Linked DNA regions of Homo sapiens. The protein of the gene in region 1 interacts with the protein of each later gene in a pairwise test. Each region holds a gene or a part of one and is shown in the gene's direction. Other genes may lie near its edges.

Evidence for each region. The genes of interacting proteins can lie anywhere in the genome.
Region 2: the proteins of CT45A3 (region 1) and SDCBP interact in binary tests that used the Homo sapiens proteins (3 or more experiments, as listed by UniProt).

Annotation. Positions count from the first base shown.
Region 1 is NC_000023.11:135,758,461-135,762,848, reverse strand, and holds the end of CT45A3 (cancer/testis antigen family 45 member A3), read left to right. Parts: intron 1-492; coding exon 493-741; intron 742-1,121; coding exon 1,122-1,215; intron 1,216-2,439; coding exon 2,440-2,497; 3' UTR 2,498-2,805; downstream 2,806-4,388.
Region 2 is NC_000008.11:58,576,691-58,581,303, forward strand, and holds part of SDCBP (syntenin-1), read left to right. Parts: intron 1-1,342; coding exon 1,343-1,518; intron 1,519-2,932; coding exon 2,933-3,104; intron 3,105-3,826; coding exon 3,827-3,918; intron 3,919-4,613. UniProt on the Homo sapiens protein: Multifunctional adapter protein involved in diverse array of functions including trafficking of transmembrane proteins, neuro and immunomodulation, exosome biogenesis, and tumorigenesis.

The DNA of each region.
Region 1 (4,388 bases):
AGACCGGTTGAGTTGTATCCCAGTTGCCTGGGTTCCAGCTCAGTAAAGCATGGCAGTTTGTAAGTGAGTTTGAGAAATCATGATATCAAGTGAGACTTGCTGCTTTCAACTTGTAAAGCATAACAAGCTGAAACTGTCCCATGAGTACCAGGGATCTGTGAATGTTGCTTTAGAGTTGTACTGCCTTACTTGGTTTCCATGTCTATTCATAGGGCCAGAAAATAAGAGGTGGTTTTATTGTATTATGTGTCCTGGCCTCCGTTTGTCAGGCCTGGGATTTCTCCCTGGTGTATCCTCCCATTTATGAAATAAATAATTCCCTAGAAACTGAGGAGCACATAGATGTACCCAGAGGGGTGATGAAACACACATATCTCACAGCTCAGCTTCTCAGTTTGATTTCCAGAGCTGTCATTCATGAGGTCTATGTGGAGGGGAAAGAAAGTGGTCAAACACCAACTGATGGCTTTTACTCAAAATCTGTTTCACCAGAGCTTATGACAGGACATGCTATTCCACCCAGCCAATTGGATTCTCAGATTGATGACTTCACTGGTTTCAGCAAAGATAGGATGATGCAGAAACCTGGTAGCAATGCACCTGTGGGAGGAAACGTTACCAGCAGTTTCTCTGGAGATGACCTAGAATGCAGAGAAACAGCCTCCTCTCCCAAAAGCCAACGAGAAATTAATGCTGATATAAAACGTAAATTAGTGAAGGAACTCCGATGCGTTGGACAAAGTAAGTAATATAAGAATGTCTGTTTTATAAAACTATAGGAAGTCTCTCTTTCTATGATTCAGAAGATATTCATGTTGCCTGTTGAGTTTCATTCTTTGCCAGAGTTGAGATTGCACATAATTTATGGTGGTTCCTCTTTTCTTTGACTAAAGCATGTACATTTTTTCTTTTTCTTTTCTTACTTGGTTATGGTTAAAGGAGTTACATTCGTATGTATGTGCAGGTGTCTTTTTTATTATTTAGGTTTTGTATGTGCAGGTATCTTGATTTAAGCATTTAAAACATTTCAGCCTCTGAAGCATGATTGCTGAGGTGTAGATTCACTTCTATTCTTCTTTATATTTGATAATACTGAAGTTTTTTTTTTTCAACATCTTCAGAATATGAAAAAATCTTCGAAATGCTTGAAGGAGTGCAAGGACCTACTGCAGTCAGGAAGCGATTTTTTGAATCCATCATCAAGGAAGCAGCAAGGTGGGTAGAAATAGGAACTGTCCAATTTCTTTAAGCACTTGGGCTCAATAGAGCACTGGGGGTGAGCGTTGGGGAACAGCCCCTGCCTTGCGTTTCTCAAACCCTGGTCCTCACTCACAGTTATGGCTGTCTCCACAGTTACTTAGGCTAATGTTATCTGAGTGTAACTCATTCTTCGAAGACTATGGAGACTTCCATTTTCACCATAGTCTGAGGTGCGCATTGTCCCTCAATTGACACTCTTTGTATTTGCTAGACTACCTCTTTTTAAAAAATTTGTGTAGGCACATAGCAGATGCATATATTTCTGGGCTATATGAGATATTGTGATACAGACAACAATGTGTAATAATCACATCAAGGTAAGTGGGGTTTCTATCACCTCAAGCTTTTATCCTTTGCGTTACAGAGAATACAATTATACTCTTCATTATTTTTAAATGTGCAATTAAATTATTACCGACTATAGTCACCCTGTTTGGCTATGAAATACGACATCTTATTTATTCCATACTTCTACGTATTAATCATCCCCACTTCCCACACCCTCCACCCCCACTAACCTTTGTAGCCTCTGGTAACTGTCATTCTACTCTCTATCTCCATTAGTTCAGTTGTTTTACACTTTTACTCCCAAAAATAAGTGAGAACATGTGAAGTTTGTCTTTCTGTGCCTGGCTTATTTCACTTAACATAAGGACCTTCGGTTCTATCCGTGTTGTTGCAAATGACTGAATCTCATTCTTTTTTTTATGGCTAAACAGTACTCTGTGGTGTATATGTACCATATTTTCTTTACCCATTCATGTGTTAGTGGACACTTAGGTTGCTTCCAAATCTTGGCTACTGTGGATGGTGCTGCAACAAACATGGGAGTGCAGATATCTGTTCGGTACACTGACTTCCTTTCTCTTGGGTATATACCCAGCAGTGGGATTGCTGGATCATATGATAGCTCCATTTTTAGTTGTTTGAGGAACCTCCAAACTGTTCTTCATAGTTAGTTGTTGTAGTAATTTATATTCTCACCAACAGTGTATGAAGGTTCCCTTTTCTCCACACCCTTGCCAGCATTTGTTATGCCGGCTAGACTGCCTCTTACCATGCAGATACATTTCTATTTCCATGCTGACTGTTACTTCATCTTTCTATCCATCACAGTGCTTCCTACAGCATAGGTTCTTTAGCTATCTTTTGGTTAATGACATGTCTCTTTCTTTTCAGATGTATGAGACGAGACTTTGTTAAGCACCTTAAGAAGAAACTGAAACGTATGATTTGAGAATACTTGTCCCTGGAGGATTATCACACCCCAAATGCATAATCTCGTTAATGATTGAGGAGAGAAAAGGATCAGATTGCTGTTTTCTACAATGGAGCAGGATATTGCTGAAGTCTCCTGGCATATGTTACCGAATCAAATAGCCTTCCAGAGGCTAAGAAATTTCTGTTAGTAAAAGATGTTCTTTTTCCCAAAGCATTTTATTTGAAAGGATAACTTGTGTTTTGGTTATTTTGTATTCCCACCTGTGCTGGTAGATATTATTAACCCATTAGGTAAATACTATTACAGTCGTGGTTTCTGCAGCAGCTCACAGTGTTGTAGCTGGTATTTATCACTACGTTCTTTCGCTACCCATTTCACATTCCCTTTGCCCTGAGATAGCATGTCAGTTGGTCATGATGCTTGGCCTGGCAGGATGACTCAAACCTTCATTACGGAAGAGTCTGAAACATTAGATGTCCTGCCTGGATGGGGTTGCTGTGATCTTCCATTAACTCTAATCGAAAAACACGGGAGGACTAAGAAGCTCTCTAGACATATCACACATACTCTTCCTTAGCCCCTGGTGTAGTGGGAACCCGATCTCAATGTTGAAATCTGTATCATCAGCCTTCAACGAAAAGGCAGAACTAATGGGAGATTTTAATGTGTGTGTGTGTATTTTACACACACATTAAAATACACACACACTTTAAAATCTCCCATTATACATGTAATGCACATTATACCTGTGTGTGTGTGTGTGTGTTGGTAGGGGGTATATATACCTACACACACACACTTTGTAATCTCCCATTATACATATAATACACATTATACACATTACACATATTACATATACACCCCTATTCATATATATATACCCCATATATATATATACCATATATAGTATATATATATATATGTGGTATATATACCATATATGGTATATATACCATATATATATGGTATATATACCATATATATATGGTATATATATATATATATATATATATATATATATATATGCACGTAGGGTGGTATATCCAATATATATAATAAAGGTAGTTCCTAGATAGGATTGGCCTGATAACAATAATTTGGAGCTTCAGTAGCAGTCCCTTTAAGACTGTTGTCTCCAGATATGACTTGCACATTCTATGCTTTTTATTTTATTTTTTTAAGACAGAATCTTGCTCTGTTGCCCAGGCTAGAGTGCAGTGTCACGATCACAAGTCACTGCAACCTCCAGCTCACCCCAGTTCAAGCGATCCTTGTGCTTCAGCCTCCCAAGTAGCTGGGATTACAGGTGCACCACAGGTGCCATCACGCTGCTAATTTTTGCATTTTTAGTGGAGATGGGGTTTTGCCATGTTGTCCAGGCTGGTCTCGAAACCTGGCCTCAAGTGATCTGCCCATCTCAGCCTCCCAAGGTGCTAGGATTACAGGCATGAGCCACTGCACCCAGCCCATTCTATGCTTTTTTTAAAATTAATTCATTCATTGATTCAACAAATATTAATTGTTCCAGGTACTTTTCTTTTTTTTATTATTATACTTTAAGTTTTAGGGTACATGTGCACAACGTGCAGGTTTGTTACATATGTATACATGTGCCAAGTTGGTGTGCTTCACCCATAAACTCGTCATTTAACATTAGGTATATCTCCTAATGCTATCCCTCCCCCCTCCCCACACCCCACAACAGGCCCCGGTGTGTGATGTTCCCCTTCCTGTGTCCATGTGGTCTCATTGTTCAATTCCCACCTACGAGTGAGAACATGCGGTGTTTGGTTTTTGTCCTTGGGATAGTTTGCTGAGAATGATGGTTTCCAGCTTCATCCATGTCCCTACAAAGGACATGAACTCATCATTTTTCATGGCTGCATAGTATTCCATGGTGTATATG
Region 2 (4,613 bases), on another chromosome or scaffold:
GAAGATATGAAACAGGGTTACTCTCTGAGGAACCATTTATAATTGTGAAGGACATGTTGAGTCTTTACCCCAATTTATAGTTTTAGCCATTACCTTATTGGATTCGGTTTCAGTCATACATCTCTAGCTTAGTGCATCCAGCCTTTCCACATAGAAAATTATAAGTGTGGTGCACTGCTGTAAATGGAGGAGGCTGATCTTGGCAGGAGGCCCCCGCCCTGCCTGCCCACCCAGGGGGCTGAGGCCATCGATGATGGCCTTGCTCACTTGTATGTCACTCAAAATACATCTGCGTGCTTAGTTGGGATGCTCTGACTTTGCTGCCCTTTCTCCAGAATCTTCAGGGAATAGAGTATACTGCTGCTCCTTCCGCCAGGATTGCTCTTGTGTTCTTTCCTCTGTCCTAAAGAGAAAAGATACTTTTCATAGGCCCCTTGGCCCCACTGTAGGTAATAGTTGCAGTGGATTTGTTCACTTGGCCAAAGGGCATTTGTTCATTTATGGGGTGCTACCTAGTTCTTGCTTATCATTCTACAATGTAACAGATGTGTGATAGAAATATGTGACCTAGCTTAGGATTGTAGAAGTAGATGCACTTATATTTTACCAGGCTTATTCTTCTTTTATACTTACCTATTTATATTTTGTTCAACTTCTGATTGAGATTTTACATAAGTAAAAATATCCATGTGAGTGTAGTTATTGGTTAACAGTATTTGAGTTTTCTGTATTTATTTCATTGTGTGTTCTTTATAAGCCTGTGCATGTGGATTTAATATGCCCATCTTTTTAGTCTAACAAATAAACTTTAATCTTACTTGATTATACACAATTTAGCAAATGGGTAAAGGAATGCTTCAGCTCAAAAGGTAGAATTATGACCTTAAACTGTCATTTATTAAGCTGTAAAAGAACTCATCAAACTTTCTAACATGTGACTCGCTTTTCCCCTAAATATGATTATGTACTGATAATTTGGTATTCTATCAGACTCAGACGCTTGCATTTATTAAAGTTGTCCTACTGTATTTTCCTTAGTTTTGTATTCCAAGTTGAAGGGGGGGATTGTGGTTGGTCAGGTGGGTCATGATTTGGTATAGAAATTGCCATTGAAATCTCACTTTTTTGCCTTATTCTTTGGAGTTGCTGTCTTGATAAATTTTTCAGTTTCTTTTGAGGTGATAACTTAATATACTCATATAGTTTTTCCTTTTTTTCTTTTTCTTTCTTTTTTGTCACTGGGGTAGAGTTTTCAACATAAACAGTTGTTTCCTAATTTTCCAGCGTTTAAAACCGTATCATAGTAGTGGTAAATGACAAAAATTATTTTCTTATTATCTAGGGTATATTTGTTCAGCTAGTCCAGGCTAATTCTCCAGCCTCATTGGTTGGTCTGAGATTTGGGGACCAAGTACTTCAGATCAATGGTGAAAACTGTGCAGGATGGAGCTCTGATAAAGCGCACAAGGTGCTCAAACAGGCTTTTGGAGAGAAGATTACCATGACCATTCGTGACAGGTAAGCTGTTACTAAACAGCTCAAATGAAAATTCAATACTAGTTTTCCATTTTTTTGGGCTTTCAGAGTTTGTGAGTATATTATTTTGTTGCAGAAAATGATCAAATGTTATTGATGAGCCTTATAGTCTTGCAGTTGTGTGGTGCAGATTTTTCTTACATTGTTTTTAAAGCATTCTGATACGATACCTTATTTCAGAGTTTATAGGACAAATCTCTCTAGAAAATAGAAAACGTATGTTGGAGAAGTAACTGAGTTGCAGGGCATCTCTGGGCTCACTTTCCAACTTACTGCTTAGATACATCCAGCCTAGGGTGTTCACACACAGTGGTCCCTCATTGTGAGGGTCAGAGCCCATGCAGACTTCCAAGTAGTATGGGAGTTCTGAAAACCGTATCAAGACTTTTGGGTAGTTATGAAGCAGTAGTTTTCAAGAACATGGAATATTCTATTTAGCAGCTCATTCATTTAGAACTTAAACATTTAGCACATGAAATAGGGGCCTCCATTTATTTTCTTGTCTACTCCATACCCAATTAAGGGTAGACGTATATTGCATTGTTACAGTAAGCTTTGAGTTTTTGTTCCTTCTCAGTGAAACTTCTGTTTTATCTTTGTGTTTCCAGTTTCTCATTCAGTTTAGGTATTTCGTAAATGTTTCAGATGAATGTCCTTTTTACTTTCTATCTAAGCAGAGTTTCAAAGAGTAAGTTGTACTAACAGGAAGAAATGCCTCTTCTGAATTTAATAATGTAAACACAAGTTGATCCTAAAACCCTTATGATAACATGATAACAGAGTTTATAGAGAATCAAGCAAATGTGACTGCTATAACAACTCTAGAGGGACAGCTGGATGCCTTTTAATAATAGCTGCATGCCTCCCTTTCCAAAGGGGCTTGAGGAACTTAAGTCTTACTGCTGCTCTAGTTTTTCTTTTCAAAGATAGCAATGTATAAAATTTTCAAAATCAAGATGTGAGAAATATTTTAAAGGTTTTAAATAAAAGAAATAGTCCTAAAAATGATTTGGCTCTAGAAAATACCAAAAGTTAATAAAAAATAAAAATTATCTTTACCACTGTGATTTAGTTAAAAAGCCTATGTCATTCTTAATGCTGTAAAGTCTAATTATAAAAGAAAAACATATTGATAAAACCATATAAAGCAGTTGTCTTTTATACTTAAAGAAGGAAATGTTGATTAGTAAATCAGTCAAACCATAATGAATAAACTTAAAAAAAACTTTTACACAAAGATGTTCCGTGAATGTATAAAATCAGAGCCATAAGTTGCTCTTATTAGAAACAGTGTTTATTATAAAAGTATCCAATATGGCAACATTTATGCTATATGAAATCCATTAAAATGTTTAGCTTAGAATTAAGTTTTTAATTGAACCAATTATGTTTGTAGGCCCTTTGAACGGACGATTACCATGCATAAGGATAGCACTGGACATGTTGGTTTTATCTTTAAAAATGGAAAAATAACATCCATAGTGAAAGATAGCTCTGCAGCCAGAAATGGTCTTCTCACGGAACATAACATCTGTGAAATCAATGGACAGAATGTCATTGGATTGAAGGTAAGGAACAGACTTTGTGCCATGTTCTGCTGCAGTTTTAGAAAATGTCTGTCTTTTGACTGTATTTAGGTGGCGCTGTTTTCATATTGACTTAGGTGGGAGATGGGGAACGTGGGGCCTGAACTCTTGGTCTGGCCAGTCACCGGAATTATTTGGGCTGTCATCTAGAACTACAGTTCCTATAACAAGTGGGCTGGAATAAATGATCTCAGAAGTACCTCACACTAGAATTCTGTGGAAATATGGGCAACAAAGATTTAGAATATGAATAGTGGCCCAGCATTTCTCAATCCAGGAATATAAGGAAATGAATAATAGTTTTGGTTCATATTAATACTTTATTTTTATAGTTTTTCTCCTCCACAAATTCCTAAATAAGTCTGTCTTAAGGTCAAAAAGTTTTAAGCATGACCTCCTCATTTCATAGAATTTGATTTAGAATACACAGTTAATAAGAGGAGATGGTAATATTGTATATGGGGAAAATTATCTAATATTCAGAAAGGAAAAGTTTTTTTTTGGTTAAAATATTCAACTCAGTTTACTTAAGCAATTTGGTTACTAGCTGTAAAATAGTGTACAATTAAACTTGGTAAGAAATACTAGAAAAAATTAGAAATACCAAGACATATATTTTGTATTTCTTTACCAAGACTGGCATAGTTTTGTATTTATTAAATAAAGCCTCTGTGGAATTAATTTTTAATATGTGTTTTTATCAGGACTCTCAAATTGCAGACATACTGTCAACATCTGGGACTGTAGTTACTATTACAATCATGCCTGCTTTTATCTTTGAACATATTATTAAGCGGTAAGTAAACAATTCCTCAACTTAATGCATATGGTCATGTGACTTAATATAAGCACTATACTTTAATTCTCAGCCCTTTGGTTCTTTTACCCAAGGAATGGATACTGGTGTTTTATCTAGAAATTTGAAGTAAGTTATTTAAATCAGAGGGTTGGTAAGGATGAGCTCTTACAACTTCCCAAGTACGGAATAAAATTCACATATACTTTCCTCAGTTTTTATAATGCCTGGTAGAAAAAAGGTATGCAAGGAGAAGTGGGCATGCTTTCAGCTTTCAATTTGCAGTGCAATTGACTGCAGTTGCACTGCCTACCACCCCTCTGCTCAGTATAAATATAGTTGTGGTGGTTCGTAATGGAGAATTCTTGCTGGTGGAATGCTAAGAGTAAGTTTCCCTTCTCTCCAGAATCTCAAGAGGCAGATAGACAAGTGTGGTGTGTTGGTGCTATCTGTGCTCAGGAACTGAGGATTAGAAAGCCAAGTGATCAGAACTGAAAAGAGGCAACAAGGTTCCTTCTATAGAGCTTTTCATATCCTAGCATCTACCATAGCTGTTTTTGTCAAGCCAGCTTGGAATCCTTTCAGAAGCTCTATTATGCATGTGAAAATGAGATTTAAAAGATTCATAAACATAACCATTGTAATGAAATTTTTGTGTTGGCTTCTGGATAGAATGCACCTAGCTACCCTTGGAG